Regions from separate parts of the Homo sapiens genome. Here all the other regions are linked to region 1. Evidence: fine-mapped expression QTL. A gene starts in region 1. Each other region holds a variant in brackets. All regions are shown on one strand. Distances are from middle to middle.

Region 1 (5,313 bases):
TCAGCTACTTGGGAGGCTGAGGCAGAAGAATCGCTTGAACCTGGGAGGCGGAAGTTGCAGTGAGCCGAGACTGCACCATTGCACTCCAGCCTGGGCAACACGAGTGAAACTCCATCTCAAAAAAAAAAAAAAAAACTTGCCATTTGTGGCAGTGTGTGCATGTAGGACATTCTATTAAGTGCAATAAATCAGGTACAAAAATATCAATACTGCAATACTGCTAGTTGTCACTCACATGTCGGGACTAAGAAATTGACCTCATATTAGTAGAGTAGAATTAGAGTTACTAGAGACTGGTAAGGGTTAGGGGAGAAGCAGATAGGGAGAGGTTGTTTAATAAATACAAAGTTACAGAGGAATAAGTTCCAGTGTTCTGTAGCTCTGTAGGGTGACTATAATTCAAAATAACTTGTTGTGTATTTTCAAATAGCTAGAAGAGAGGGTTTTGAATGTTCCCAACAGATAAATGATAAATGTTTGATGGGTTTGGTAGTTACCCTGATTCGATCATTATGCATTGCACACATGTATCAAAGTATCACTCTGTATCCCATAAATATGTACAATTCTTACATGTCAATTAAAAATAAGGCACTTCCTGCTTGCTTCCATTTCAGACGAGAAATTAGCTGTAATTCACATTTTACCATTTTTTATAGTCAGTGCAATCCTTTTTGTCTGGCTGTTTTTAGGATTTTTTTTTCCTTTGGTTTCCAAACGTTTAATTATGATGTGTCTTGGTGTGAATGTCTTTGAATTCATCTTATTTTGGATTTCTCAGCTTCTTGAATCTGTAGTTTTGTGCCTTTCACCATATTTGGAGAATATTTAGTAGTTGTTACTTTAAATACATTTTCAGCCCCATACGCTCTCTTATCTTTCCTGAATTTCCCAGATACAAAGATTAAGTCTTGTTATTATTGTCCCACAGATCCCCGAGGCTCTATAAATTTTTCTATTTTCTCTCTGTTGTTTGCACTGTGTAAATTCTATTGAAGTATCATCAGGTTCACTGGTTCCTCTGTCATTTCCATTCTACTAGTCCGTTCATTGAGTTTTTAACATTTCAGTTATTATATTTTCAGTTCTGTAATCATTTATTTTAAAAACAATTTAATTGAGGTTCATGTATCATAAATGCACTCTTTTAAAGTGTGTGGTGCAGAGGATTTTAGTATATTCAGGATTATGCAACCAGCACCACTAATTTCAGAACATTTTCATCACCTGAAAAAGAAATCCTGTAGCTGGCTGTGGTGGCTCACACCTGTAATCTCAGCACTTTGGGAGGCCAAGGTGGGAGGGTCCGATGAGGCCAGGCGTTTGAGACCAGCCTGGGTACATGGCAAGGCTTTCCATCTCTACAAAAAAATTTAAAAAATTAGCCAGACATGGTGGCATGCACCTATAGTCCCAGTTACTCAGGAGGTTAAGGTAGGAAGATCACTTGAGGCCAGGAAGTTGAGGCTGCAGTGAGCTATGATCATGCCACTGCACTCCAGCCTGGATGAGAAAGTGAGACTCTGTCTCCCAATAAATAAATGAATATATAAATACATAAATAAATAAAAATAAAAAAGAAAAACACTATACTATTTTCAGTCATTTTCTCTTTCCTCCTTCTCTAGCCCCTGGAAACCATGAATCTAATTTCCTTGTCTATTGATTTGCCTATTCTGGAAATCTCATATGAATGGAATCGTACCCAGTATGTGGTCTTTTACATCTGGCTTCTCTCACTGAGCATGTTTTCAAGGTTGACGCACATCCAGCCTGTGTGGGTGCCTTGTTCCCTTTCTATGGCTGAGTGACATTCCATAATGTGGACATACCGCATTTTGTTTCTCCATTTATCAGTGGATGCACACGTGAGCTGTTTTCATCTTTATTATGAATAATGCTGCATGGACATTCATGTAGAGATTTTTGTGTGGACATAAGTTTACATTCCTCTTAGATATGTACCCAAGAGTGGAGTTGCCCCTTCTGGGCTCAAGTGGTATCTTCCAGGAGTATCTCTGTTTAACATTTTGACAAACTGCCAAACTTTCTCAAAGCAGTTGCACCATTTTTGAATCTACCAGCAAAATCTGAGAGGTCCCATTTCTCTACATCCTTACCACTGTTTCATTTTGTTTTTAAGACAAAGTCTTGCTCTGTCACCCAGGCTGGAGTGCAGTGGTGCAATCTCAGCTCACTGCAACCTCCGCCTCTTGGGCTCACGCCATTCTCATGCCTCAGCCTCCCGAGTAGCTGGGACTACAGGTGCATGTCACCCTGCCCGGCTAATTTTTGTATTTTTAGTAGAGACAGGGTTTCACCATGTTGGCCAGGGTGGTCTCGAACTCCTGACCTCAGGTATCTGCCCACCTCAGCCTCCCAAAGTGCTAGGATTACAGGCGTGAGCCACTGCGCCTAGCCTGTTCCATTTTTATAACTTCTATTTCTTTGCTGAGATTTCAATTTTTCCACTTATTTCAAGAGCATTTGCAATTTGTTGTGGAAACATTTTTATGATGCCTGTTTTAAAATCCTTGTCAGATAATTCTGACACCTGACTCTTCCTGGTGCCGCCCTTAGTTGGTTGTCTCTTACTGAAATGGTCGTGTCCCTGGGTCTTCATATGATGAGTGATTCTTAACTGTATCTTCTCTCAAGGGTTTTCATTCCAACGACAGTTCAGTTCTCAGAGTTCTTGCAAAGCTCTTCCGTGTCATTCTTCTGGTGCTGCTGGGACTCCCACTCAAACCCTAATCCTACCCCTACCCCTAACTCTGCTAGTGCCATCTGCTGGCACAGAGGACGCCTCCTTGGCTGTCTGGGGCCACTGCCTTCTGTGGTGGTGGCATGGCTGAAGCCGACGGGCCCGGGTGGAGGGCAGAGACGCAGGGCTTCACTGATGCTGTGCTGTGGGCAGGTTGGACCATCTCTGCCTGATGGTTGGGTCTAGTCCCATCAGCAGCTTGATCAGTGTGGGAGGAAACCCACAGCCTGCACCCTCCCCATGTCTGGTGATGCTCAGGCCAGCAAGGCATTGGCTGCTCTGCTCACGGCTGAGAGGCAGAGCTGCTGATTCGCTCTGGAAAGGCTGTGGCTGTCCCCATTGGACCCTGGAGGTCCTTGGCAGCTCCCACTTCTGTATATGTGACTCTGGGCTGTGACCTCTGCCATTGCCCCAGCTAAGCAGCGAGAGCTTGCTGAAGCCCAGAGGGCTGTGGGACCATGAGGGCAGCTCTCTGGACCCTGGGACTCGGGCCCCTTCTTCTGAATCTCTGGGCAGTCCCCATTGGTAAGTTTCTGCTTCCTTCATCCATGGAACTTTCTGGAGGCATCAGCTCTGTTGATGCCCAGGCCCCGGGGCATGAGGGTCCCTGCAGTGACCTGCCGTCTGCCTGGGTCTCACTCAGCCCAGAGTGGGTGGGACATGCTGGGGCAGGAGGGAGGTGACTCCACATGGCTGGATCCCTGTGACCTCAGGGCCCCCAGACCCTAGCCCCACTGCTTGGAACCCAGGGTTCAGGGCTGGGTCAGGCCCTGGACAAAATGAGGGACACGGCCCAGTGTCTGGTCCCAATGACCCTGATCAACAGAGTCCTGAGGGGTCCTGCGGGGGCTGCTCCATCCACGTGCCCTGGAGCAGGGCTGAGGTCCTGGGAAGGAGGTGGGAGGGTTGGCTGCATCTGGCAGTGAGGTTGAGCATGGGGTCCCATGGAGATGCTGCACCCAGGTGGAGACACTGGGGTGTGAAGCCATGTGGAAGGGCTGCTGGGTCAGGGGCAGGGAGGTGTAGAGAGGGGGGTCTAGCTAGAAGGAACAGCAGGAGAGGCTGGAGGTGAGAGGGAGCCCCGGGGACCTGCGTACGTGGGCATGGAGCCATGATGTGAGTGTGGGGCTGGGCGGGAGGCAGGGGAGGGTGCCCTTGAGGCTGAGGAACACTTCACTGTCAAGGCTGGTCCAGGTGCCCAGCAGGGCGGTGACCTGGTGCTGGACGGAGCCACATCCCCAGCGGTGGGGTGGAAGTCTGTGGGCAGCTGCAGAAAGTGCAGAGGAGGTTAGGATTTGAAGGAAAGGCAGCAATGTGGCCACAGATGGATGGAAGCCTGGGGTTGAAGGGATTTGCTTTTGTGTCAACGATCGCATGCACAAGGGCCGGAATTCTCTATTACAACAAGAAATAGCTTTAGAAAATATAAAATGAAAAGCTATTCATAGCGGGCGTGGTGGCTTATGGCTGTAATCCCAGCACTTTGGGAGGCTGAGGCAGGCAGTTTACCTGAGGTCATGAGTTCGAGATCAGCCTGGCCAACATGGTGAAACCCCATCTCTACTAAAAATACAAAAATTAGCCAGTCGTGGTAGTGGGCGCCTATAATTCCCGCTACATGGGAGGCTGAGGCACGAGAATCAGTTCAACCCTGGAGGTGGACATTGCAGTGAGCTGAGATCGTGCCATTGCACTCCAGCCTGAGTGACAGAGCGAGACTTTTGTCTAAAAAAGAAAAAATTGCAGACACCAGCACGCATCCATGTCCTGAGAAGAACCAGGTGGGGAGGGTGATGAGGAGGCTGGGGGGTGTGGAGGGATGGATGAAGACTGAGAGAGAGGAGATTCAAGGCTCCCCAGGAGGTGGGAGGGAAAGGTCTTCATCTTGGACCAGGCAGGGTCCCCCCTCTGCTCCTGACTGCCATCGGGGAGGCTCTTTTCTGGGTGTGGAGAGTCCTCCAGGGGCCCTGGAGGCTGCTCTGGGACCACACAGCACCACCCACATGGACTTCCTCCTACTGGTTGCTTCATTTTCCTCGGGGTGGCTGTGTTGATGTGGGGTTGCAGAGGCCTGGAGAGGGTGGTTAGGGGTGCCTCCGTGGCGGGTGGGAGAGAAGGTGCTGGAGTAGCTGAGATGCTCAGAGACCGGAGGGTGAGATCCTGCCTGGAAGCCGGTATGGGTGGGGTAGTGGGGCTGGGTTTGGCATAGTGGGAGGGCAGGCAGGGGTGGTTTTCCTGGATACTCAGGGTTGCAGAGGACAGGACCGAAGGGTGAGCGGGGCACTCCAAGGGGTGTGGACAGTCACGTGGGTGGGGCAGGTGTGACAGTGGTGGGCTGGAGACCACAGGGCCTCCAGTGGAAGTAGGGGAATGATGCTTGGGAGGCAGAGAGTGGGTGGGAGGACCCACCCAGCTGCAGACCCAGGAGGACAGGGGACTTCCTTGCCTGGGGGATGGGGTCCTCCAGGATGTTGGGGCTCCAGAGGGCCAGGGAGGGGAGTAGCCCCCGGGGAGACACATGGGGTGAGGGTTTCTCTGTGAGCCGCGCC
Region 2 (5,313 bases), 54 kb after region 1:
ATTACCTTGGGCAGTATGGCCATTTTCATGATATTGATTCTTCCTACCCATGAGCATGGAATGTTCTTCCATTTGTTTGTATCCTCTTTTATTTCCTTGAGCAGTGGTTTGTAGTTCTCCTTGAAGAGGTCCTTCACATCCCTTGTAAGTTGGATTCCTAGGTATTTTATTCTCTTTGAAGCAATTGTGAATGGGAGTTCACTCATGATTTGGCTCTGTGTTTGTCTGTTATTGGTGTATAAGAATGCTTGTGATTTTTGTACATTGATTTTGTATCCTGAGACTTTGATGAAGTTGCTTATCAGCTTAACTAGAAAATCTAGAAGAAATGGATAAATTCCTTGACACATACACTCTCCCAAGACTAAACCAGGAAGAAATTGAATCTCTGAATAGACCAATAACAGGATCTGAAATTGTGGCAATAATCAATAGCTTACCAACCAAAAAGAGTCCAGGACTAGATGGATTCACAGCCGAATTCTACCAGAGGTACAAGGAGGAACTGGTACCATTCCTTCTGAAACTATTCCAATCAATAGAAAAAGAGGGAATCCTCCCTAACTCATTTTATGAGGCCAGCATCATTCTGATACCAAAGCCGGGCAGAGACACAACCAAAAAAGAGAATTTTAGACCAATATCCTTGATGAACATTGATACAAAAACCCTCAATAAAATACTGGCAAAACGAATCCAGCAGCACATCAAAAAGCTTATCCACCATGATCAAGTGGGCTTCATCCCTGGGATGCAAGGCTGGTTCAATATACGCAAATCAATAAATGTAATCCAGCATATAAACAGAGCCAAAGACAAAAACCACATGATTATCTCAATAGATGCAGAAAAAGCCTTTGACAAAATTCAACAACCCTTCATGCTAAAAACTCTCAATAAATTAGGTATTGATGGGACGTATTTCAAAATAATAAGAGCTATCTATGACAAACCCACAGCCAATATCATACTGAATGGGCAAAAACTGGAAGCATTCCCTTTGAAAACTGGCACAAGACAGGGATGCCCTCTCTCACCACTCCTATTCAACATAGTGTTGGAAGTTCTGGCCAGGGCAATTAGACAGGAGAAGGAAATAAAGGGTATTCAATTAGGAAAAGAGGAAATCAAATTGTCCCTGTTTGCAGATGACATGATTGTATTTCTAGAAAACCCCATTGTCTAAGTTTTATTTTGATTCACTTCTTGTTGTTCTGGGCTTTATGGTCAAGTAATTTGTTTTAGAAAACTTTACTGGGAGGTGACATCAGCAACATGGTGGCACAGGAGACTTCTACCTCTCCCTCCACCCATGGACACGTGGAATAAACACCTACACATGGATAAATTTTCTTTGAGAGAAAGTCAGAAAAAGTTGAGAGTCTCTTACACAGCAGACAACTGAGAAAATATTCACATCAAGCAGGTAGAAAAAGCTGAGGCACACGCAGGCACAAATATCACCCTGGGTACTGCACCATAAACCAGGAAAAACTCCCAACACATAACTTCTCCCTGAGGAGAGAAGGGTATGGACCACATGTATATGACCCTAGCTCCAAGGTTCCCATGGTTTGACTTTTAATTCACCTAGCTCTGGTAGTGGAAGGGACTAGGCATACACAAGTCTCCCTAGACCACAGAACAAAGTAGCAAAACCCTAAAAGGAGTTTGTTGGTATACTCCTCCAACTTCTGCTAACAGCAGAGCTTCTAACTAGCCTGAATTAGGGAGTTAACCGGGCTGACAAACTACAATATTCCTCTGTTATTGATGGTTTTTCTTTCCAAAGTTTCAGTTAACTATGGCCAACTGCAGTCTGAAAATATTAAACGGAAAATTCCAGAAATAGACAGTTTGTAAGTTTTAAATAACTGTTATCACCATATGTTGTTATAATTGTTCTATTTTATAATTAGTTATTATGTTTCCTTCATTATTGTGCCTAATTTATAAATGAAACTTCATCATAGGTATGTATAGGAAACAAAGCACAGTATATATAGGGTTTGGTGCCATACACAGCTGCAGGAATCTGCAGAATGTCTTGGACTGTATCACCCACGGATAAGGGGGACTAGTGTATAGCCCTCCGGGAGGCTAAGCAGTAGCTCAGCACATCTTAAGCCTTCTCCTCTCCTGTGGTTCACCTGTGATATATCCAGATCTACCCATTCTTTCTGGAAGAGGTTTGTCCACACACTGACTGCCCCAACTTTTACAGCTCCCACCCAAAAGACTGCATCCTAAACTGTCTAACTCTGGGAATGAAAGCGTCTTGGCATTTGCTAGTCTCCCTAGATTACGGTACAAAGAGGTAGTTTTAAATGGGCAGGCAAGGTTGGGCGCGGTGGCTCACGCCTGCAATCCCAACACTTTGGGAGGCCAAGGTAGGTGGATCACCTGAGGTCAGGAATTCGAGAACAGCTTTGCCAACATGGTGAAACCCTGTCTCTACTAAATATACAAAAATTAGCCGGGTGTGGTGGCGGATGCCTGTAATCCCAGCTACTCGGGAGGCTGAGGCAAGAGAATCATTTGAACCCAGGAGGCGGAGGTTGCAGTGAGCCGAGATTGCACCACTGCACTCCAGCCTAGGCGGCAGAGTGAGACTCCGTCTCAAAAAAAAAAAAAAAAAAAAAAAGAAAGAAAAAAAATGGGCATGCAAGCACTTATAGGAGTTACACCCGCAAGGACCAATGCAGACAAGAGGTTAAATACACGCCTTCCAGTTTCTCCCTGGAAGGGGTTAGTCTGCACAATTTTCCAGTTACTGCTTAAGGATCAGGCTCCTATCTAGCCTGCATCTGGGAGCCAACAGGGCCGACAAACGATAGACCTCCAGGATTCTGAATGAGAGTTCAGGCACTTCCCAAGCCTTTCCCTCCACCTCACCCCAGTGATAAAACCAGCTCTGTAGATTCCTTTTAGAAGTAGTTTGTGCACCAAGTGCCACAACTTCTACAGCTCCCACCCGGAGGAGTGCCTCCTTAACCACCTAACTTTGGGAATTGGTGGGTCTCTGCATTTCTGAGTCTCCGTGGACGACAGAAAATAAAGAAGTGTACATTCAACAATCCAACTTCTAGTGACTATCAGAGGGTGCATTCTGCATGAAAATGCAGACACTTGTCACAGATCCTTCTTCTGACATAGTGCATAGAGAGTGGGAGATAAACTCTTGCTCTTAGCTTCACCCTGAGCAAAGAAGAAACTGGAACATATATTTAACACTCCAATCTTTCCAACTGCATCTAGTTTCTATCTTACCTATCTCAAGGCA[C/T]TGACAGGACTTGGCACATTGTAAAATTCTACGGTGGGCAGTCGGGGGGCACTAAAATCAGAGACAGTGGTTTGGACAAACCAGGATTTAAGAGGCACCTCAGAATCTCTGGACCAATTGGTGAGGGCCTTCTCCTACACTGACAGAACTGGGAGTCTCACAGTCTGACAGAACTGGGAGAGGCTGCTGTCTTATGTAATGCACGGACACTAATACAGAGAAACAAAGGAAATAGAAAAACAGGGAAATGGGTTCCAAATAAAAGATCAAGATAAATCTGCAGAAACCAACCCTAGTGAAGTGGAGATGTATGATCTACCCAATGAGGAATTCAAAATAATGGTCATAAAGATGTTCACTAAGGTCAGGAGAAAAATGCATAAACAAATAATTTCAAAAAAGAGATAGAAAGTATTTCAAAAGCGGCCAATAGAAATTATAAAACTGAAGAATATAATAACTGAACTGAAAAATTCAGTAGAGGTGTTCAACAGCAGACCAGATTAAGTGAAAGAGAGAACCAGTGAGATTAAAGACATGTCATTGGAAATAATCCAATCCTAGAAGTAAAAAGAATGAAAAAGATAGCTTACAGGACTTCAACAAGCAGAACAATATATTCAGAATTGGTAGACCAGGAGGAAGAGAGGGAGAAAGGGACACAAAACATATTCAAAGAAATGATGGGGAAAAACCTCCCAAGCTTAGGGAAATAAATTGAAATCAAGATTCAGGAAACTCAGATGACACCAAATAGGAAAAATCCAGAGACACACATTTGAGACATATTATAATCAAATTGTTAAAAATTTAGACAAAGAGAGAATTTTGAAAGCAACAAGGGACAGCAAATAGTTACACAAAAGGGATGCCCACCGTGTAAGATATCCATGGATTTTCTTTTTCCAGAAACTTTATAGGCCAGGAAGGAGCTGGATGATATATTCAAAATCCTAAAAGAAAAAAAAATTACTGCCCAAGAATACCATACCTAGTAATACTATCTTTCAAAAATGAAGGCAAGAATAAGACTTTCTCAAACAAACAAAAGTCGAGGAAGGATATCACCATTAGATGTGCCTTACAAGAAATTCTAGGAATTCTTCAAGCTGGATTAAAAGGATACTAATTGATAGGATAAAAATACAAAAATAAAAAACTTACTGGTAAAAGTAAGTACATTGTCAGATTCAAACTAGTAATCAGGCAATGGTCTTCTGTAAAACAATTCTATCTCTAGTACAAAGGTTAAAAGATAAAGCAATTAAAAACAACCATAGCTACAATAATCTGTTGAGAGATACAAATGATGAAATGATATAAATTGTGACATCAAAAGCATAAAATATGAGGTGGGGGAGTAGAAATGTAGAGTTTATTTATGCAATCAAAATTAAGCTTTTATCAGCTTAAAAATAGCTGGTTATAAACATAAGATGTTTTCTGCAAGCCTCAAGTAACCACAAAGCAAAAATCTGTAGTAGATACACAAAAGATAAGAAGAAAATAGTCAAAGCATATCACTATAGACAAGCGTCAAACCATCTAAGATCAAGAACAAGACAAGGATGCCCACTCTCACCACTTCCATTCAACGTAGTACTACTGTCAGTCTTAGCTAGAGTAATTAGGCAAGAGCAAGAAATAAAAGGCATCCAGATTGGAAAGGAGGAAATAATACGGTTCCTGTTTGCAGATGACATGATATTACGTACAGAAAACCATAAAGACTACATCAAAACTACTAGAACTGATAAATAATTGCATTGAGGGAATTGTTTTGTACCCGTTTATGGTGGGAGTTACATAAAATATAATATATACTACAATAAATATAATAAATATACTCTATATTATAAATATAATATATATAATACATATAATAGCATTATATTTCATAGATCTGTACACCAAAGGAAAAGAAGTCTATTTTACATATGATGATTTTGAAAAATAAAAGAACGGAAAGTAGTATGGAGACTTCTGTTTAATGATAGTAGATGCGTGTCATTTTTATTATACTCTCCTCT
Region 3 (5,313 bases), 44 kb after region 1:
CTAGATACAATGTGGGTACAGGCATTGGGCAAAAACAGCCATTCCAAATGGGAGGAATTGGCCAAAACAAAGGGGCTACAGGCCCCATGCAAGTCCAAAATCCATCAGGGCAGTTAAATCTTAAAGTTCCAAAATTATTTCCTTTGACTCCACATCTCGCATCCAGGTCACACTGATGCAAGAAGTGGGTTCCCATGGTCTTGGGCAGCTCCGCCCCTTGGCTTTGCAGGATACAGCCTCCCTCCCGGCTGTTTTTATGGGCTGGTGTTGAGTGTCTGTGGCTTTTCCAGGCACACAGTGCAAGCTATCAGTGGATCTATCATCCTGGGGTCTGGAGGATGGTGGCCCTCTTCTCACAGCTCCAATAGGTGGTTACCCCATTAGGGATTCTGTTTGGGGGCTCTGACCCCACATTTCCCTTCTGCACTGCTGTGGCAGAGGTTCTCTATGAAGGCCTTGCGCTTGCAACAAACTTTTGCCTGGGCATCCAGGCATTTCCATACATCTTCTGAAATCTAGGCGGAGGTGCCCAAACCTCAATTCTTGACTTCTGTGTACCCACAGGCTCAACACCATGTGGAAGGTGCTAAGGCTTAGGGCTTGCACCCTCTGAAGCCATGGCTGGAGCTTTACCTTGGTCCCTTTTAGTCATGGCTAGGGGCAGCTGGGACACAGGACACCAAGTCCCTTGGCTGTACACAGCATGGGGACCCTGGGCCTAGCCCAGGAAGCCATTTTTATCTTGTACACCTCCAGGCCTGTGATGAGAAGGGCTGCTGTGAAGACCTCTGACATGCCCTGGAGAGGCATGTCTTTTCCCCATTGTCTTGTGAGTTAACATTCTGCTCCTCGTTACTTATGCAAATTTCTGCAGCTGGCTTAAATTTCTCCCCAGAAAATGGGATTTTCTTTTTCTATTGCATTGTCAGGCTGCAAATTTTCCAAACTTCTATGCTGTGCTTTCCTTATAAAATGGGATGCCTTTAACAGCACCTGAATCACCTCTTGAATGTTTGCTGCTTAGAAATTTCTTCCACCTGATACCCTAAATCATCTCTCTCTGGTTCAAAGTTCCACAGGTCTGTAGGGCAGGGGAAAAATGCTGCCAGTCCCTTTGTTAAACATAACAAGAGTCACCTTTGCTCCACTTCCCAACAAGTTCCTAATTTCCATTTGAGATCACCTCAGCCTGGACTTTATTGTCCATATTGCTATCAGCATTTTGGGCAAAGTCTCTAGGAAGTTCCAAACTTTCCCACATTTTCTTATCTTCTTCTGAGCCCTCCAAATTGTTCCAACCTCTGCCTGTTACCCAATTCCAAAGTCAATTCCACATTTTTGGGTATCTTTTCAGCAACACAACAGCCCACTCCTGGTACCAAAATCTGTATTAGTCAGGGTTCTCTAGAGGGACAGAACTAATAGGATAAATATTATATATGTATATATATATGTATATATGTAAATGGGAGTTTATTAAATATTAACTAACATGATCACGAGGTCCCCACAATAGGCTGTCTGCAAGCTGAGGACCAAGGAGAGCCAGTCCAAGTCCCAAAACTGAAGAACTTGGAGTCTGATGTTTGAGGGCAGGAAGCATCCAGCATGGGAGAAAAATGTAGGCTGGAAGGCTAAGCCAGTCTTGCCTTTTCATGTTTTTCTGCCTGCTTTATATTTGCTGGAAGCTCATTAGATGGTGTCCACCTGATTAAGGGTGGGTCTGCCTTCCCCAGCCCACTGACTCAAATCTCCTTTGGCAACACCCACACAGACTCACCTAGGGTTAATACTTTTTACAGTCCTTATTTCTGCAGCTGGTCATGTGGTCGTAGCTGGTATTGATGACTACCTTCTTCTATCACCCACTGTGTATTCCCTTTGCCTTCTGCAAGCACCTCATCAGATCAAGGTTTTTTTCCTGGTGGAGTGACTTAAACCTTCATTCCTGAAGGGTCTGGACCATTTGTAGTCCTCCCTGGATTGGGCTGTTGTAGTTTCTCATTGACCTTAATCACAGGGCATGGTAATACTAAGTGACATCCTAATGGATCTCCTGTATTCCATGCATGCTCCTCCTTACCTCTGTTATGGAGTAGTAGACTGATTTCATCTTGATAGTCTGGGTCAATCAACCTAGCCAACACTGTAACTCCCTTCTTAGCCTGTTTACTTAAAGGTAGGAGGAGCCCGAAGTGTCCAGGTGACAATCTTAACTTTCAGTTTAATGGAATTGTTGTTGTGTCTCCTGGTGGCAGTGTTACTCCCTCTGGAACTAAGATCTCTAGGCTAGCAGAACGTAATGTTGCAGGAACAGGAAGCAAAAATTTTGCTACTGGATCATTAGGGGTGATGGTGAGTGGTGCCACTTCCACTTCCACCCCTTGATTCCTGGACCCGTGAATCCTGGCTATGGGAGAAACAGTACCATATATCAGATGCTGATCCAGTGCATACACAGCCTTCTAGAGTACTTTGCCCCAGCCCTGCAAAGTATTGTCATCTAATTGACATGGTAATTGTAGGGTCCAGCCCCACAGGGTTGGTGCATTTTCTCCTTCTGTGTGGAGACGAGAGAGCGTAGAAATAAAAACACAAGACAAAGAGATAAAAGAAAAGACAGCTGGGCCCGGGGGACCACTACCACCAAGATGCGGAGACTGGTAGTGGCCCCGAATGCCAGGCTGCACTGATATTTATTGGATACAAGACAAAGGGGCAGGATAAGGAGTGTGGGCCATCTCCAATGATAGGGAAGGCCACATGGATCACATGTCCCCTGGACAGGGGGCCCTTTCCTGCCTGGCAGCCGAGGCAGAGAGAGAGAGGAGAAAGAGAAACAGCTTACACCATTATTTCTGCTTATCAGAGACTTTTAGTACTTTCACTAATTTGCTACTGCTAACTAAACGGCAGAACCAGGTGTACAAGATGGAACATGAAGGCAGACTAGGAGTGTGACCACTGAAGCACAGCATCACAGGGAGACGGTTAGGCCTCCGAATAACTGTGGGTGGGCCTGACTAATGTCAGGCCTTCCACAAGAGGTGGAGGAGTAGAGTCTTCTCTAAACTCCCCTGGGGAAAGGGAGACTCTCTTTCCCGGTCTGCTAAGTAGCGGGTGTTTTTCCTTGACAC[T/C]AACGCTACTGCTAGACCACGGTCTGCTTGGCAATGGGCATCTTCCCAGATGCTGGCGTTACCGCTAGACCAAGGAGCCCTCTGGTGGCCCTGTCTGGGCATAACAGAAGGCTCACACTCTTGTCTTCTGGTCACTTCTCACTATGTCCCTTCAGCTCCTATCTCTGTATGGCCTGGTTTTTCCTAGTTTATGATTATAGAGTGAGGATTATTATAATATTGGAATAAAGAGTAATTGCTACTAATGATTAATGATATTCATATATAATCATATCTAAGATCTATCTCTGGTATAACTATTCTTATTTTATATTTTATTATACTGGAACAGCTCGTGTCCTCGGTCTCTTGCCTTGGCACCTGGGTGGCTTGCCACCCACAGCAATTGTGACTTTGAAAGGCCATTCCACCGTTCTATCAATCCAGCTGCTTCAGGATGATGGGCAACGTGGTAAGACCAGTGAATTCCACGAACATGAGCCCACTGCTGCACTTCTATGGCCGTAAAGTGAGTACCTTGGTCAGAGGCAATACTGTGTGGAACACCATGATGGTGGATAAGGCATTCCATGAGTCCACAGATGGTAGTCTTGGTAGAAGTATCGTGTGCAGGATAGGCAAACCGATATCCAGAATAAGTATCTATTCCAGTGAGGACAAATCTCTGCCCTTTCCATGATGGAAGAGGTTCAATATAATCAACCTGCCACCAGGTAGCTGGCTGACCACCCTGAGAAATGGTGCCATATCGAGGAATCAGTGTTGGTCTCTGCTGCTGGCAAATTGGGCACTCAGCAGTGGCCATAGCCAGATCAGCCTTGGTGAGTGGAAGCTCATATTGCTGAGCCCATTCATAACCTCCATCCCTGCCACCATGGCCACTTTGTTCACGGGTCCATTGGGCAATGACAGAGGTGCTTGGGAAAGAGGCTGAATGGTGTCCACAGAAGTGGTCATCCTATCCACTTGATTATTAAAATCCTCCTCTGCTGAGGTCACCCATTGGTGAGCACTCACATGGGATACAAATATCTTCACAGTTTTTGACCACTCAGAGAGGTCCATCCACATACCTCTTCCCCACATTTCTTTGTCACAATTTCCGATCATTCTTCTTTCAAGTCCCTGACCATCCAACCAAACCATTAACTACAGCCCATGAATCAGTATATAATCACACATCTGGCCATTTCTCCTTCCATGCAAAGTGCACAACCAGGTTCACTGCTCTTAGTTCTGCCCACTGGGAAGATTTTCCTTCCCTACTGTCCTTCAGGGATGTCCTAGAAAGGGGCTGTAGTGCTGCAGCTCTCCACTTTTGGGTGGTGCCTGCATATCATGCGGAACCATCCACGAACCAGGCCCAACTAATTATAGGGAACTTCCCATGAGGCCGTTGGGGCAGGCTCGGGGAGAGAAGGAAGGGTGGCAGGAGTGGAGACCATGGGCATTTGAACCACTTCCTCATGTAACTTACTTGTGCCTTCAGGACCTGCTGGAACCTGATCACATATATACCACTTCCATCCTGTGGTCATTTCCCTAGTGCCACTTCCATTTGATGACGGAATGCTGCTGTGCACAACCCACTTAATGGCTAGATGGGTCAGAAAGCACCCAGTTTATGATAGGCAGTTCAGGTCGCGTGGTGACTTGGTGACCTACAGTCAAACGTTCAGTTTCCACCAAAGCCCAGTAACAGGCTAAGAGCTGTCTCTCAAAAGGAGAGTAGTTATCTGCAGAAGATGGCAGGGCCTCGCTCCAAAATCCTAGAGGCCTCCACTGTGATTCACCTATGGGAGCCTGCCAAAGGCTCCAAACAGCATGCCTATCTGCCACTGACACCTCAAGCACCATTGGATATGCTGGGCCATATGGCCCAAGTGGCAGAGCAGCTTGCACAGCAGCCTGGACCTGCTGCAGAGCCTTCTCTTGTTCTGGACTCCACTCAAAACTGACAGCTTTTCAGGTCACTCAATAAATGGGCTGGAGTAACACACCCAAATGAGGAATGTGTTGCCTCCAAAATCCAAATAGGCCCACTAGGCATTGTGCCTCTTTCTTGGTTGTAGGAGGGGCCAAATGCAGCAACTTATCCTTCACCTTAGGAGGAATATCTCTACAGGCCCCATACCACTGGACCCTTAGAAATTTTACTGAGGTAGAAGGTCCCTGA
Region 4 (5,313 bases), 380 kb before region 1:
AGATGGTGGATGGATGGAGGGTGGACGGGTGGATGGATGAGAGGGTGGATGGATGGATGGATGGATGGGTGGATGGATGGATGGATGGATGGATGAGTGGGTGGATGAGTGGGTGGATGGGTGGGTGGATGGATGGATGGATGGATGAGTGGGTGGATGAGTGGGTGGATGGGTGGGTGGATGGATGGATGGATGGATGAGTGGGTGGATGAGTGGGTGGATGGGGGAGGGTGGATGGGTGGATAGATGGTGGATGGATGGAGGGTGGATGGGTGGATGGATGAGTGGGTGGATGGGTGGATGGTGGATGGGTGGAGGGTGGATGGGTGGATGAATGAGTGGGTGGATGGGTGGAGGGTGGAGGGGAGGAGGGGTGGAGGGGTAGGTGGGGAATGGATGGATGGATGGATGTTGGATGAATGAGTGGGTGGATGGGTGGATGGATGGATGGTGGATGGGGGAGGGTGGATGGGTGGATGGATGGGTGGGTGGATGGGGGAGGATGGATGGATGGATGGTTGGTGGATGGATGGATGGATGTTGGATGAATGAGTGGGTGGATGGGTGGATGGTGGATGGTGGATGGTGGATGGGTGGATGGATGGGTGGATGGGTGGATGGTGGATGGGGGAGGGTGGATGGGTGGATGGTTGGTGGATGGATGGATGGATGTTGGATGAATGAGTGGGTGGATGGGTGGATGGGTGGATGGTGGATGGTGGATGGTGGATGGGTGGATGGATGGGTGGATGGGTGGATGGTGGATGGGGGAGGGTGGATGGGTGGATGGTTGGTGGATGGATGGATGGATGTTGGATGAATGAGTGGGTGGATGGGTGGATGGGTGGATGGTGGATGGTGGATGGGTGGAGGGTGGATGGGTGGAGAGGTGGAGGGGTGGAGGGGTGGAGGGGTAGGTGGGGGATGGATGGATGAGTGGGTGGATGGGTGGATGGGTGGATGGTGGATGGTGGATGGGTGGAGGGTGGATGGGTGGAGAGGTGGAGGGGTGGAGGGGTGGAGGGGTAGGTGGGGGATGGATGGATGAGTGGGTGGATGGGTGGGTGCAGGGATAGGTGGGTGGTGGTTGGCAGGCATGGACAAGAAGAGGAAGAACGAACAAACAGATGGCTGGAGAATGGACAGGGCAACAGAGGGAAAGGAACACAGGATGGTTTCACCTTCAAAAAAAGAGGAAGGCTGGTTCCAAGGAGCAGCGGTCCAGCCTTAAGCATTTATTTTTCCCCGGAATTCATTATGCCTGTGAATACTGACACACGGGGCGGACATTTACGGATCCACATCATAAAGAAGTTGTTCTATAGAAATTCCAAAACTGGATGAAATATTAGGAACAAAATCATGTTTTAAGCTCCCCGCAAAGAAACATTAGCTGATAAGTAACAAAGAAGCAGAGGAGCTGGAGGAGGGTTTTCCGTTCCCTCCTCCTGGATCAGAGCTCAGGCCGGACTCTAGAGGGGGGGACTCCGCGGCAGCAGCTGGGCTCAGAAGACCGCACTGTGCAGGCGCAGACGCTGGGTTCAGACGCCAGAGCAGCTCGCTTCATGGAAACCACTGAGAAAGGGAGGAGAAAACTGTGAGAACAAATGTTTTCTCAGTAACTTTCTCTTAAATGAGGTTAAGTATCATAAATATACAAATTAGGTTAACAAAACAAATGTGTTTGGGACTTCCTCAACTACTTTGTGAAAATTATTCTGGTTTTATGTAAAGAAATGAAAGGTTTAGTGCTGTTTCTAAAAATGGCCATTACTGAATAAGGATGCAAAAGGCAGTGACAGAACAGTCCCGAAATGCCTGCGGTTCCCAGAGCCTGCAGGAGCCGGTCAGCGTGGGTGTGTGTGAAAGACAGACACACACAGACAGGCAGACGCATGGACACATGGGCACGCGGATACACAGCGGGAGGCTTTGCCCCACACTTCAGGGTGCTGTGGCCTGGTGCGGGCCAGGGGGTGGGGACTGGGCCGCTTCTCCCCGTCCTAGCTTGGGATGTGCTGCAGTGGGACCACCTGGGAGATGCTGGACCTTCCTCCTGGGACAGTGAAGAGCAGAGCTGTGAGCCCCTGCCTGCCTGCCCCACCCCCATCCCCAGCACTGTGCTGGCCACAGCAGCAGACACGTGTCATGTGTGCTAGAAAGCCTGCTCCCGGAGCCCCCTGCTCCCACCCCCAGCCGCCTTCACTCATCAAGTGCTGGCCATGACCCTGGGCCAGGCTCGCTCAGGGACAGATGGTTGGGTGGAGGGAGGCAGCGGCATCAAGCCATTGGGGCAGAGGCCAGGGGCACCCTGGTCTCCTGCACAGCCTGGCAGGTGGACACTGGACCTTCTTGGCCTTCACAAAATGGCTCCACTTGGCCCCACGACGCTGGCTGCACCTCACACCTTGGCTGGCTGTGGGTTTGCTCTGCAATGGGAGGGCTGTGCGGCTTCTTAGCCCATTGGCTGAAAGCTGGGAGAGGTTCCAGAATGTTCTGCACCAAGGGGCAGGGCACCTGTACCTGGGCAAGTATCCAGTCCAAGCATCCATGGTCACACAGACGAGAGGCCCCGCCCTCCCCTGGCCACAGCATGGCGCAGCAGAAGCCCTGAGAACTCGGCTGAGAGTGAGCCGGCGCTGGGGTGCACGAAGGGGTCTCTTTGCTCCGTGGGTTGTCAGCTCTCTGTGTCCTGGGAACAGCCACCCAGGGGTCTGCCCCACATCACCCGAAGGTGGCTGGCAAGTGCTGACCCTGTTCAGATCACGCTGGTGTGAGGTCCCCGTTGGCTGCCACCAGGACTGGCCCTGAGATGAGGGTTGGCCCCGCCATCTGCCCGGGCTCCCGGCACACCCGGTGCTCTGGGCAGCTCCAGTGCTCAGAGAAGCCTCCCCCTGGGTGTGTGGGGGCCAAATCCC[G/A]GCCTGTGGCCCCAACTGTGCAGCTGAGCCTGGGCCCTGAGTCCCAAATCTGCCATTTCCCTGAGTTCTCTGCAGCCCCTGGGGCTGTCATCACTTTATTCTTTTAATTAACTCTGCAATTACAGCCTCCTGTCTCTCATGCAGAAGCAGATTCGGGCTCTGTGGGGAGACAGGAGAGAGCTCCTCTCTGTGGATGCCGCCTCTCAAACAGCACCTGCGGCCGGCGTGGCTGGGTTTTAATTATTGCAAAACCCTTTGGTGGCTTTTCATCTGTTTCAGACCAAAACCAATAAACACATTCACTTATGTCTTGAGTGAGGCCGGCCCCAAGGGCTCCGTGTGGTCATGGCGCACAAGGACCTTTGGAGAAACCTCATCGTGCCCTTCGCTGGCCCAACCCCCGCGGATCGGCCGCCCCGGGCCTGGTTCCAGCTCCTGCCAGCTGCTGTGGGAGGCCTCAGACCCTGGGACCCACAGCTGGGAAGCTGGCGGGGAGGCCGAGGGGCCGTCAGCAGGTCTCAGGCAGGCCTCTGGGGTGCTCACACCAACCCTGTCCCATGAGTGACCTCAATGGAGCGAAGGAAGGGGTGGGAAGGCGGCCGACGTTTTTCTAGAAGCACTGGGAGATGTACTTGGCGTTCTGTTGTGTTTACAGAGGATGTCCATGTTTTCCTGGAGCAGTGTGAGGAACCTCGCCCGCCTCTGCCCAGGGCAGGCGTGGGAGGGCAGGGGGCCGTAGTGTGCAGAGCCAGGGGGCCCTGGGGTGCAGAGTCAAGGGGCCGTAGGGTGCAGAGTCAGGGGGCCGTAGGGTGCAGAGTCGGGGGCGTAGGGTGCAGAGTTAGGGGGCTGTAAGGTGCAGAGTCAGGGGGCCATAGGGTGCAGAGTCAGGGGGCATAGGGTGCAGAGTCAGGGGCCCTGGGGTGCAGAGTCGGGGGCGCAGGGTGCAGAGTCAGGGGGCATAGGGTGAAGAGTCAGGGGGCCCTGGGGTGCAGAGTCGGGGGCGCAGGGTGCAGAGTCAGGGGGCCATACTGCAGAGTCAGGGACCGTAGGGTGCAGAGACTGGGGGCCATAGGGTGCAGAGTCAGGGGGCCCGGGGGTGCAGAGTCAGGGGGCGTAGGGTGCAGAGTCAGGGGGCCCTGGGGTGCAGTCAGGGGGCATAGGGTGCAGAGTCAGGGGGCCACAGGGTGCAGAGTCAGGGGGCCCTGGGGTGCAGAGTCAGGGGGCCATGGGGTACAGAGTCGGGGGGACCTGGGTTGCAGAGTCGGGGGGCCCTGGGTTGCAGAGTCAGGGGGCAGAGGTGAAGCCACGCCCTGGGATGTTTGACCTCCCTGTGCCGAGGAGGTCTCCCCGCAGCCCCAGGCTCCTCTCCACCAGCAGCTCACCCTGCACTGGGGAATCTTTGAGAGCACAGCTTTTCTTCTTCTAGAGACAGGATCTCACCCTCTCACCCAGGCTGAGTGCAGTGGGGCGATCACAGCTCACTGCAGCCTCAACCTCCTGGGCTCAAGAGATCCTCCTACCTCAGCCTCCGGAGTAGCTGCTAATAGAGGTAGACACGACCACGCCTGGCGAATCTTTCCATCTTTTATTATGTAAACATGGCGTCTTGCTATGTTGCCCAGGCTGGCCTAGAACTCCTGGACTCAAGTGATCCTCCCACCTCTGCCTCCCACAGTGCCGGGATCACAGGTGTGAGGCCCTGCGCCCGACCAGAAGCTCTGTTCTGACCTCATTTCTCTCTCTATCTCTGCCCGCTGGCCTTTGAGGCTCGGAGGAGCTGGCCCTGAGGCCCTCACCACTCACTGACTCGCTGGCGTTCCTCGTCACTCTGCCCTGGGCCCTTCCCACGACTTCTCTCCTCTCCTCTTGGTTCCTATTCATCTTTCAAAGCCGCCTCCTCCAGGACACCCTGCCTGCTTGCTCCTCCCTTCCTTTGCCTCAGGCGAGTGCCTGTCCCTGGTGACTTGAGCCACAGCTATTTCTGTGCCTGTCTCTCCTCTGGGGCCGCCCACCCGGCTCACATCCTCCGTGGGACTTCGCCCATCCGCACAGGCCAGTCACCTAGTCACCTATTAGGAGGCCCAAGGAGCAATTTCAGAGATCAACTCCTCCATTGTTCTGCAATCTCGGATCTGAGTGAAGACACCCCAGCCTCTAAGGGGGGCGCAGTGGACCCAGGAAGGGGCACCTGCCCGGCAGATGCGAGGCCACGGGAACCACTCGCGGCTGAAATCCAGATGTGCTTCTCTGGGCAACGTCCATCACCACCAGGCACAGATGGCGCACGGTGCACACTGCCGAGGGGGCCGGACACCACAGTCACCAGACAGCCGGGGCCCAACCGCTGGGGGCCACACCCGGGGCAGATGGACGTACCGGCCCATCGAGGCCCTCA
Region 5 (5,313 bases), 33 kb before region 1:
CAGGGATGCCCTCTCTCACCACTCCTATTCAACATAGTGTTGGAAGTTCTGGCCAGGGCAGTTAGGCAGGAGAAGGAAATAAAGGGTATTCAATTAGGAAAAGAGGAAATCAAATTGTCCCTGTTTGCAGATGACATGATTGTATATCTAGAAAACCCCATTGTCTCAGCCCAAAATCTCCTTAAGCTGATAAGCAACTTCAGCAAAGTCTCAGGATACAAAATCAATGTACAAAAATCACCAGCATTCTTATACACCAATAACAGACAAACAGCCAAATCATGAGTGAACTCCCATTCACAATTGCTTCAAAGAGAATAAAATACCTAGGAATCCAACTTACAAGGGACGTGAAGGACCTCTTCAAGGAGAACTACAAACCACTGCTCAATGAAATAAAAGAGAATACAAACAAATGGAAGAACATTCCATGCTCATTGGTAGGAAGAATCAATATTGTGAAAATGGCCATACTGCCCAAGGTAATTTATAGATTCAATGCCATCCCCATCAAGCTACCAATGACTTTCTTTTTTTCTTTTTTTTGAGATGGCATCTCACTCTGTCGCCCAGCCAGGCTACAGTGCAGTGGCACAATCTCAGCCCACTGCAGCCTCCACCTCCTGGGTTCAAGCGATTCTCCCGCCTTAGCCTCCCAAGTAGCTGGGATTACAAGCATGTGCCACCACACCTGGCTAATTTTTGTATTTTTAGTAGAGACAGGGTTTCACCATATTGGTGAACAGGCTGGTGTCGAACTCCTGACCTCAAGTGATCCGTCCACCTTGGCCTCCCAAAGTTCTGGGATTACAGGCGTGAGCCACCATGCCTGGCTGGATGCCATGTATTTTGAGTTTCACCTTGTTAGGTGATGGATATCTACATTCCTGTAAAAATTCTTGAGCTTTGTTGTGGGACAGTTAGATTATTGGAAACAGTCCGGTCCTTTCAGGAGTTCTTCCCATTGGCAGGTCTCGGGGGTGGTCCGGGGCGCCTCCTCCAGGCTTGCTCCTCTCTCCTGGGACAGCTTTTTTGGAGCACCAGGGCACCCTTGAGGCTGCTGATTCAGAGCTCATGCTTGGTGCCTCCGAGAAGTTAGATTTAGAACCTGTGTTACTCAGGGTTCTGATGCTCCTATGGGCTCTGAGCTCATGTCTTGCTTTGCTGGGCCTTGGGGTGAGTCCTCTGTTACCGGCTCATGCTGTGACCAGGTCCGAGGGCACCAGCCTCCTCAAGGTTGAGCCTGCCCTCGTGGGAGCCACGAGACAGGTTCCCCTCACCCCTGGCTGTCAGGAAGGTTGGGAGAGTGTTGGGTCTGGGTTAGTCGGGCTCCCAAGGCTTAGGGTGGTGTTTGTCCCTGTGAGTGGCTGCTCTGTGCTGGCCTTTCCCTCCAGGCCTCTCTGCCCAGAGCCTGCACTGTGAGGAGTCAGAGTGCCCGTTACAATCACTGGGTGACGCTTAGCAGCGGTGGGTGCCTAGTCAGCCCATGCTGGTCCCTGTGCTAGGAAAACACCGCTCAAACACCCAGCCGGGTGGAGAGGATGCAGGTGTACTGGCTGCCTGGAAGTTACCGAGTGCCATCCTTAGCAGCAAACAGAGTATGTTTGCAGATGGTCTGCTGTGCTCCTCTTTTAGTTTCCAGGACCTGGGCCTGCACAGAGGCCTGCCTGTCCTACCCCGGATAGAGTGGATGAAGCCTGTGTGTGTGAACAGCTGTTACTCCTCCCGCTGCGGCAAGGGCTCCGGTGGTGGGAGCCGCCCCCCATGCTGCTGGCCGTGGCCACACAGGACGAAGCTCAGGGATGATTCTTAGATAGTGGCTCTCCCCCGGGGCCCAGCACCGGTCACCTGCAGTCTCATCTTGGTCATCCACAGCGCCGCAGTCACTGTCACCCACAGGAGGTGCCTGGCCGTGGCCTTTGTGGCATTCAGGAGGAAGGGCCCGGCCTGGCTGGCCGCGCGGTGTCAGTGCTGGGCCCCCTGGTGCTGACCTGCAGCCTATGTGCAGGTACGTGCAGCACTACGGCCTGGGCAGTGCCTGTGACAACGTAGAGCGCGTGCTGAAGAGTGTGGCTGTGAAGCTGGGGAAGACGCAGAAGGTGAAGGTGCTCACGGGCACGGGTGAGTGAGGTCGCTGATGCGGGCACCGGAGCCTCACCCCATCACCCTGGGGGACCCCGGCCATCCCTGGAGGAGGCAGGGAGGAGAGGAACGTGTCAAGGAGCATGCGCCGGGTCTTCTGGGAATGGGTTTCAGGGCAGGGGAGCTACAGAAAGTTCTGGAGAGGAAGGGCTTGTAGTCCAGGCTTCCGAGGGTGAGACCAGCCCTGCCGCGTATTGGGCAGTGCTAGGTGGACACCTGCAGGCCTCACATGCCTGGCCTTGGAGGCTCCGGGCAGCGTAGCTCAAGCTGTTTTCTTTCTGAGTGTGATCCCGTTCCCTGGGCTTCCCTGATGCCATCATGGAGCCTCTTAGGGCTGGTCCCTCAGGTGGGTAAGGGCTGGGCCTGTCCTGCTGTGAAGGCTCCTTCCTCACTGAACCCTCCCGTCCCCCAGGTAACGTGAACATTATTCAGCCTAACTATCCTGCGGCAGCCCGTGACTTCCTGCAGACTTTCCGCCGTGGGCTGCTGGGTTCCGTGATGCTGGACCTCGACGTCCTGCGGGGCCACCCCCCGGCTGAGACTTTGCCCTGAACTTGTCCGGGTAGGGAGGGCCGGAGGCATGTGGCCTCCCAGACCTCCTGACCTGGGTGGTTGAGGCTCAAGACAGCTCACCCGGTCCAGAAGCTCCATGCTGGTCACTAGGGTGCTGTGCTCTCTGGCGCCCCACAGCCTGGCCAGCTCCAGGGACCCCAGTTGCAGGGCCCAAGCAGGTGGGAGTGGACACCAGGCTTCCC[A/T]GTGGACGTCCCTGAGCAGCTCCGCATGCTTGGTTCTCCCGGAGCTTCCTGCTCAGGCCTCTTGAGAAATGGATGCTGTCTCAGAAGGAGTTAAAGCTATAACCTGTAACCTTTAAAATCTCCAGTTAAAGGGCCTGTTTCTTACTGGCCTGTGAGGTGCACCGTAGTGCCTTGGGCCTGTGTGTTAAAGCTGCTCTCACCAGTGAAACCTAAGAAATGAGCAGGTTGGCAGCTAGGGTTTGTGTTGGAGGCTTTCGGTCCAGTGTCTTGCAGTCCTACAACAAGTGAGAGGCTTGCTGCCATCAGAGAGGTTTATTTCACACTTACAGGCACACACAGACACAGACCAGAGACTCCCAGCAGCAGAGCCCAAGCACTGGCTTCGCCCCTCAGTGCCCTGGGGCATGTTCAGGGCAGGGTTGAGGGGGACGCCCTGCACATGGCTTTGCTGTGCAATGACTGGAAGGCCGCCCGGCATGGGCAGTAGAGACCCCTGGCCTCTGAGCACCTTCTAGCTCACGGGTAGTGGGATTCTGCATTAGTGGGGCTGAGAGATGTGGGGGCCCCTCCAGCCCCATTATAGTGCACCTGAAGGGGTCCACAGCCTGTGTCCTAGAAGAGGGAAGAGGAAGGAAGGTGGGTGGGGCTGGTAGTATGGACTAAGGTGCTGCAGGACCTGGGGCCAGGGACATCCTGTGCAGAAGCTCCGGCTGCCTCTTTGCGGTGGTGGCCTGACCGTCCCACAGCAGCCTCCACCAGGGCCCTGGTGCTCAGTGGCCCCTCTTTGCTGGCTGGCTGCCTCTGCTGCCCCATACCCCACACACTCATCAGCCTGAAGTTAGCCCCTGAGTGCCACCTGCATCGTGCCATAACCCTGACCGCCTGGGGCAGGAAGTATTCAGGTTGGCTGTGTCAGATGCTAATGTGCTGAATCAACAGTCATTGCAGATCACGAAGTGTCCATCATAACTGGAACATTCCATCAGCTTGCAGTGCTGTGGTGTGTGAGGGTCTGGTGCAGCTCAGCCCATTTTCCAGGTGGGCATCTGCAAAGTTGAGGGGGCTCCGGTGGGTCTCTCTGCTGTGAGGAGACTCAGACCACCCCCTGCCTCCTGGGGGAAATGTCAGAAGGGCTTCTCTGCCTATGAGGATCTGGGGCAGGGCTTGGCCTTGGCCTGCTGGTCTTGGAGGCGTTGAGCTTGGTCTGGAAGGGGTGGAGGAGCGTCTGGGCTCACTGGGCCAGGGGCATTGCTGGCAGTGTGGACGGGAGGCTGCAGGGCGCTGCCTCCTGTGGCTTAGTGCCCTGGAGCTAGAGAGCAGTGCTTGGTTGAGTCCTGCCAACAGCTTCCAGATCCTCACCCAGGCCAGAACCCAGGCCAGCTGGGGAAGGCAGAGGCTGGCAGGGCCCGTGGTGGGTGCTGGTCTTGACTTTGGTGTCCACTGAGTCCCGAGGCTCAGGCCCAGGAGGGATGCAGTCCGGCTGAGGGCGAGGCTGTCCCCAGGACATGGAGAGGGTGAGATCCCAAGGCCACGGCGGGGGGCAGGGAGAACCCCTCCTACCCTGGATGAGTGGGTGACTGGAGAGCTAGAGAACGTGGCAGACCCAAGACCTCTCAGTGCTGAGCCCATGGAGGATGCCCCAGGCTGGCGGGACTGGGAAGCAGAGGGCTGGTCTTAACACAGGTGTGTCCAGTGCTGGAGGCAAGTCCTTGTCGTGACTGTCCAGCGCCACTCCATGTCTCTCCTGTCCTTGGATGTTGGGGGGCTCAGCCTCTTGCATGGGTGTCCTGCTGGGCGCTGGGCCCCGCCACTGGCCCCCTGCTTGCTTTGGGGTCTGAGTTAGCTCCTGGCTCCACTGAGCAGGCCGTCAGCTGCCAGCCCACCACGCGGATACCCAGGCCCTGTTCCGAGGCCTGGAACAGCTGCTTCCGAAGAAGGGGCTGCCTTCAGGGAAATGCGTGCACCGTGCAGCCTGTGCTGTGCCCAGGGAGGCCTCTTCAGCGGGATTGGCAGTTGCTGTGCCCTGAGAACAGGCAGAACTGTGTGATCCCTGAATGTGAACCTGAAGTTCAAAGGACTTGGAAAGCTCTGGAATGTGTTGGTTTTTCCCCCCCAAAATGGGTCCTAAGGAGGGTAAAGTGACTTGTTTCAAGTTGTTGGAGCAAAGTGGGTCTCTCACGGATCTCGGCCTGAGGGTGTGGGGGAGAAGGCCTGGACAGCCCCTCAGGGCAGGGTGTGTTTTCCCACCAGCCGCAGAGAGCCAGGATGGACGTTCCTCGGACGGACGGTTTTCCTGCTTGGGAATGTTCCTGGGCTGTGAGATCCACTCTTCTGGGCAGGTGGTTAGCACCTAACGTTTTTCCCTCACTTCCCCCCAAATTCTTAAGTCCTTTGGTCCATTTCACTGCTTCTTTTG
Region 6 (5,313 bases), 23 kb after region 1:
CAGGTGCTCCCACATCTTACCACTTAGCTTGGATTTTGAGGTTTAAATGCTACAAATATGGTTACTTATTGTGGGCCATGAAATAACCTTAAATCAGTGTTGCAGTGACCTTTGATACTGAATGTTTTTATAAATCAACATTATTTTTAAAGAAAAGTGGTGTGTTTGATTAGGAAAATCCGGCATAGCTGAAGGTTATAACACATTTGAATAAATTAGAGGAAGTGTTCAAATCTTGGGTTGCTGAAATGCTATTACATATACTGTCATGGAAAATAGATAATCATTGGCCAGAGATTAAAAACATGTGCCGATTGATTGAGTTGAAGGATGTTAGAAGGTTTGGAAAATTAAAGGGGCCAGTTGTCTTCCTGTGATGAAATTAAGAAGCACTTTAAATCAGCCATGGCCACGTCTCTGGTTCTTTTGCAATGACTGTTTTCTCCATGTCTTATTTTCTGCACTTGGTCTCTAAGATAAATTGCTAGGTTTCTCCTGAGCACAATTATCATCTCAGTTCTACCTGTGGGCACTTGCTGTGACCACCTACACTGCTTTACCAATCAGTTGTGGGCCTTTGGCCCAAACAAGGAAGTGAGTCAACCCCCATGGGCTCACAATGCCTCATCTACGTGGCCAGGCCTGCTGAGTGCAGAGTGGGGGTCTGGGCTTCAGCCTGCCAGAAGACTCTTAGTCTCCTCAGACCCTTTGGATGCTCCATCCTTGAAGTCAGGACAGTGTCTCCCTGGACACTGCAGGCCACCTCAGCGTCTGGATGGGCACATAAGAATTGTGATGAAAATATTTACCTTCCCGAGTTCACATCAACAGCCAGACATGCTGACAGTGTGCATCCCGGTGTGGTGTGATGAGAATGTCACGTGCCTCTGTGTCTTTCCGCCCCAAAACCCGTAACTTTCATCATGAGTAAAAAAATAATCAGGCGAATCCCAGTCAAGGGAATACCTGGAAGATACAAAATACCTGGCCAATATTCTCCAAAACTACCAAGTTCATCAAAAGCAAGGAAAGTCTGAGAAAATGCTGCAGTCAAGAGAAGCCTAAGGAAACTCCTAACTGTGATGTGGACAGAAGGACGTTAGGGGAACACGGAGGAACTGGGAATCAGCCATGGATTGCAGTTGACAGTATAGGATCGATACTGGCACATTAATGTAACACATGCTAATGGGAGATGTCAGTAACGGGAAACTGGGTGGGGGCAAATTTAAAACTATTCTAAAAGATTAAGTCTATTTAAATAAAATTCCATCCTCCTGCAGGGAGGGTTGCACATGGCCCTTGTGTGCCCAGGGCAGAGGTGCTGGGGAGAAGCCACCAGCTCTGGAATTGATCTCCCCAGGTCCATCACCCAGAAGCCCTGCAGGTGCCCTGGCCTGTCTCTGCTCGAGCCTGGGGGCGGTTCCCATGGGGACCCCTTTCTACCTCCGAGTGGGGTAATTGCTCCCTGAGAGCCGCTCCTGGGGACACGTGGGCCTCTGTAGCAACCTCAGCATCCACCCCGAGGGGACAGACTTCACTCAAAGGTCAGCATCAAACACAGGAGACACTGACTGGGAAGAGACGGGCGTCAGCCTTGAGGCACCATCATGTCCATGGACATGTGGGCTCCCATTTAGACAGGAGCTGGCCTAGCCACACTCCTCACTCAGTGAGTGGCTGCAACCCTCCATGCCTGCCTTCCACATGGATGACCCACCTAATTTTCCTTTCAATGTTTTTGAAAAGTCAGATCTGATTCTACCCTGCCCTGACCTACATTAATGTGGAAAAAATGTTGCTGAAATTGCTTTGCTGTTGTGTTGAGGGTTTCCGTTTGAAACTCTAAGTGCCTGGGAACCTCTGTGGGCCTGCACTGTGCCCTATCTGTGCCCTCGATCAGGTGAGCAAGAAGCCGGAGCCCCGTGGTTTGGCCTTTAAGGCAGATCAGGATCTGTAAGAGGGGCCTGGAAGCTTCCTGTGAATCTGGTGCAAGGCTCCACCTGCCCTTGGTTTCACAGGCAAATGGGGCTCCTGTGATGGAGGATGGATTTCGGGCCTCAGACTGGGCAGCCAGGAGGTCTTTGGGACTGCCTGAGCTGAGGGCTGCCTGGGCTGAGGACTGCCTGGGCTGAGGGACTGCCTGGGCTGGGGGGACTGCCTGGGCTGAGGGCTGCCTGGGCTGAGGACTGCCTGGGCTGGGGGGACTGCCTGGGCTGAGGGCTGCCTGGGCTGGGGGGACTGCCTGGGCTGAGGACTGCCTGGGCTGAGGGACTGCCTGGGCTGGGGGGACTGCCTGGGCTGAGGACTGCCTGGGCTGAGGACTGCCTGGGCTGAGGACTGCAGCTGAAGGCTGCCTGGGTTGAAGACTACCTGGGCTGGGTGCCTCCTGGGCTGGGAAGGAAGTGGGTTTGGCCTTGTTTCCTCTGATGTTGACTAAGCCGCCTCTCCTTGCCCTGGGCTGGGCCTGTCCTGCCCGAGGAGGCTAGGTGGTCAGAGATGGGTGGTGGGAGAGGTATGTGAGGTTGGTTGAGTGGAGGCACTGGATTAGGGGCTGCACCGAGGCTGGGTCTGTGCCTTTCTTT[G/A]ATGTATCCAGTCTCGGACACAGCCTGACACCCCCTGATGGAACAAACCTCCCACCCAGACCAGGAACAGGAATGGCCAGTCCATGCCCGCTTCTGCATGGAGTCTGCCCTCCTGAGGGAGCGGCCTGGGGTGGCTGAGGTAGGGCCGCAGTCATGGTTTCTACTAAGGAGCTGTGGCCAGGTCAACCTACAGCTGAAATCTGACAGCTGAGGTCACCTGGCCAAAAGAGCTGGAGTCTGGCCTGGTGGTAGTTGGAGCCACTCACTGCCCTGATGTCCCCACATGCCTCCCTTTGGAGAGTGCCCCTCACAGCCTCTGCAGGTGAAACCTGTGCTGTCCTGACGCTAACTCTCCATAAAGCCCATGCCTGCTGGGTGGTTTTCCTTCTCCGCGACCCAGAATCTTGTGCCCAGGTCACTGATGTGGTCTCCACCTGCCTCGGGGGCCAAACACACTTGCACACCACGAGCTTCTGTGTGCTGGAATAATGGAGGAAATGTTTAAAATCAAAGCAATGAGAGGCTCTTGCTGCATTTTTGTTATTTACTGTGATGCCAGCCCCGCTGCAGGCCGGCAGGGAGCACTGTCCTCGGGGGTGAGTGACGCTGGGCTTGTTGACTCCCTCGCAGAGTGGAGGGTTAATGCTCTGATTCTCCCTGGGCGCAGGGACCCATGTTAACATCTTAATTATGTGCTTTCTGCAGCAAAGTTGCCAACAGCAAACTTTCCCAGAGAGTCTCAGCAGGACAGCGAACAAGGGGACAGGTCCCAGAGAGTCTCAGCAGGACAGCGAGCAAGCGGACAGGTCGCAGAGCGACTCAGCAGGACAGCGAGCAAGGGGACAGGTCCCAGAGAGTCTCAGCAGGACAGCGAGCAAGCGGACAGGTCCCAGAGAGTCTCAGCAGGACAGCGAGCAAGCGGACAGGTCCCAGAGAGTCTCAGCAGGACAGCGAGCAAGCGGACAGGTCCCAGAGAATCTCAGCAGGACAGCGAGCAAGCGGACAGGTCCCAGAGAGTCTCAGCAGGACAGCGAGCAAGCCGACAGGTCCCAGAGAGTCTCAGCAGGACAGCGAGCAAGCGGACAGGTCCCAGAGTCTCAGCAAGACAGCGAGCAAGGGGACAGGTCCCAGAGAGTCTCAGCAGGACAGCGAGCAAGCGGACAGGTCCCAGAGAGTCTCAGCAGGACAGCGAGCAAGGGGACAGGTCCCAGAGAGTCTCAGCAGGACAGCGAGCAAGCGGACAGGTTCCAGAGAGTCTCAGCAGGACAGCGAGCAAGCCGACAGGTCCCAGAGAGTCTCAGCAGGACAGCGAGCAAGCAGACAGGTCCCAGAGTCTCAGCAAGACAGCGAGCAAGGGGACAGGTCCCAGAGAGTCTCAGCAGGACAGCGAGCAAGCGGACAGGTCCCAGAGAGTGTCAGCAGGACAGCGAGCAAGCGGACAGGTCCCAGAGAGTCTCAGCAGGACAGCGAGCAAGGGGACAGGTCCCAGAGAGTCTCAGCAGGACAGCGAGCAAGCGGACAGGTCCCAGAGAGTGTCAGCAGGACAGCGAGCAAGCGGACAGGTCCCAGAGTCTCAGCAAGACAGCGAGCAAGGGGACAGGTCCCAGAGAGTCTCAGCAGGACAGCGAGCAAGCGGACAGGTCCCAGAGAGTCTCAGCAGGACAGCGAGCAAGGGGACAGGTCCCAGAGAGTCTCAGCAGGACAGCGAGCAAGGGGACAGGTCCCAGAGAGTCTCAGCAGGACAGCGAGCAAGCCGACAGGTCCCAGAGAGTCTCAGCAGGACAGCGAGCAAGCGGACAGGTCCCAGAGAGTCTCAGCAGGACAGCGAGCAAGCCGACAGGTCCCAGAGAGTCTCAGCAGGACAGCGAGCAAGCGGACAGGTCCCAGAGTCTCAGCAAGACAGCGAGCAAGGGGACAGGTCCCAGAGAGTCTCAGCAGGACAGCGAGCAAGCGGACAGGTCCCAGAGAGTGTCAGCAGGACAGCGAGCAAGCGGACAGGTCCCAGAGAGTCTCAGCAGGACAGCGAGCAAGGGGACAGGTCCCAGAGAGTCTCAGCAGGACAGCGAGCAAGCGGACAGGTCCCAGAGAGTGTCAGCAGGACAGCGAGCAAGCGGACAGGTCCCAGAGAGTCTCAGCAGGACAGCGAGCAAGCGGACAGGTCCCAGAGAGTCTCAGCAGGACAGCGAGCAAGCGGACAGGTCCCAGAGCGTCTCAGCAGGACAGCGAGCAAGGGGACAGGTCCCAGAGAGTGTCAGCAGGACAGCGAGCAAGGGGACAGGTCCCAGAGAGTCTCAGCAGGACAGCGAGCAAGGGGACAGGTCCCAGAGAGTCTCAGCAGGACAGCGAGCAAGGGGACAGGTCCCAGAGAGTCTCAGCAGGACAGCGAGCAAGCGGACAGGTCCCAGAGCGTCTCAGCAGGACAGCGAGCAAGGGGACAGGTCCCAGAGAGTGTCAGCAGGACAGCGAGCAAGGGGACAGGTCCCAGAGAGTCTCAGCAGGACAGCGAGCAAGGGGACAGGTCCCAGAGAGTCTCAGCAGGACAGCGAGCAAGGGGACAGGTCCCAGAGAGTCTCAGCAGGACAGCGAGCAAGCCGACAGGTCCCAGAGCGTCTCAGCAGGACAGCGAGCAAGGGGACAGGTCCCAGAGAGTCTCAGCAGGACAGCGAGCAAGCGGACAGGTCCCAGAGAGTCTCAGCAGGACAGCGAGCAAGCGGACAGGTCCCAGAGA

The links.
Region 2: its variant is fine-mapped to the expression of SCART1 in whole blood (TOPMed, PIP above 0.99).
Region 3: its variant is fine-mapped to the expression of SCART1 in whole blood (TOPMed, PIP above 0.99).
Region 4: its variant is fine-mapped to the expression of SCART1 in cerebellum (GTEx, PIP above 0.99).
Region 5: its variant is fine-mapped to the expression of SCART1 in whole blood (TOPMed, PIP 0.94).
Region 6: its variant is fine-mapped to the expression of SCART1 in whole blood (TOPMed, PIP above 0.99).

What each region holds. Positions count from the first base shown.
Region 1 is chr10:133,450,776-133,456,088 of GRCh38, forward strand. It overlaps SCART1 (scavenger receptor family member expressed on T cells 1), which reads left to right and starts at 3,170. Exons shown (of 12, transcript NM_001396050.1): 1 at 3,170-3,289. The coding sequence starts at 3,223. RefSeq lists an enhancer at 2,895-2,944.
Region 2 is chr10:133,505,054-133,510,366 of GRCh38, forward strand. It overlaps LOC105378575 (a long non-coding RNA gene), which reads right to left. Exons shown (of 5, transcript XR_946512.3): 4 at 4,160-4,236. Among named protein-coding and RNA genes, the nearest start is that of CYP2E1, 20 kb to the right of the region's middle. The variant C/T (reference allele first, on the strand shown) is at 3,284.
Region 3 is chr10:133,494,361-133,499,673 of GRCh38, forward strand. The region is part of intron 4 of LOC105378575 (a long non-coding RNA gene); the gene reads right to left. Among named protein-coding and RNA genes, the nearest start is that of CYP2E1, 30 kb to the right of the region's middle. RefSeq lists a silencer at 3,163-3,242. The variant T/C (reference allele first, on the strand shown) is at 3,138.
Region 4 is chr10:133,065,812-133,071,124 of GRCh38, forward strand. No RefSeq gene overlaps it. Among named protein-coding and RNA genes, the nearest start is that of ADGRA1-AS1, 18 kb to the right of the region's middle. The variant G/A (reference allele first, on the strand shown) is at 2,919.
Region 5 is chr10:133,417,472-133,422,784 of GRCh38, forward strand. It overlaps MTG1 (mitochondrial ribosome associated GTPase 1), which reads left to right. Exons shown (of 11, transcript NM_138384.4): 10 at 2,009-2,121; 11 at 2,555-5,049. The coding sequence ends at 2,694. SPRN (shadow of prion protein) reads right to left here. Exons shown (of 2, transcript NM_001391974.1): 2 at 3,195-5,313. Among named protein-coding and RNA genes, the nearest start is that of SPRN, 4.5 kb to the right of the region's middle. The variant A/T (reference allele first, on the strand shown) is at 2,898.
Region 6 is chr10:133,473,612-133,478,924 of GRCh38, forward strand. No RefSeq gene overlaps it. Among named protein-coding and RNA genes, the nearest start is that of SCART1, 22 kb to the left of the region's middle. The variant G/A (reference allele first, on the strand shown) is at 2,586.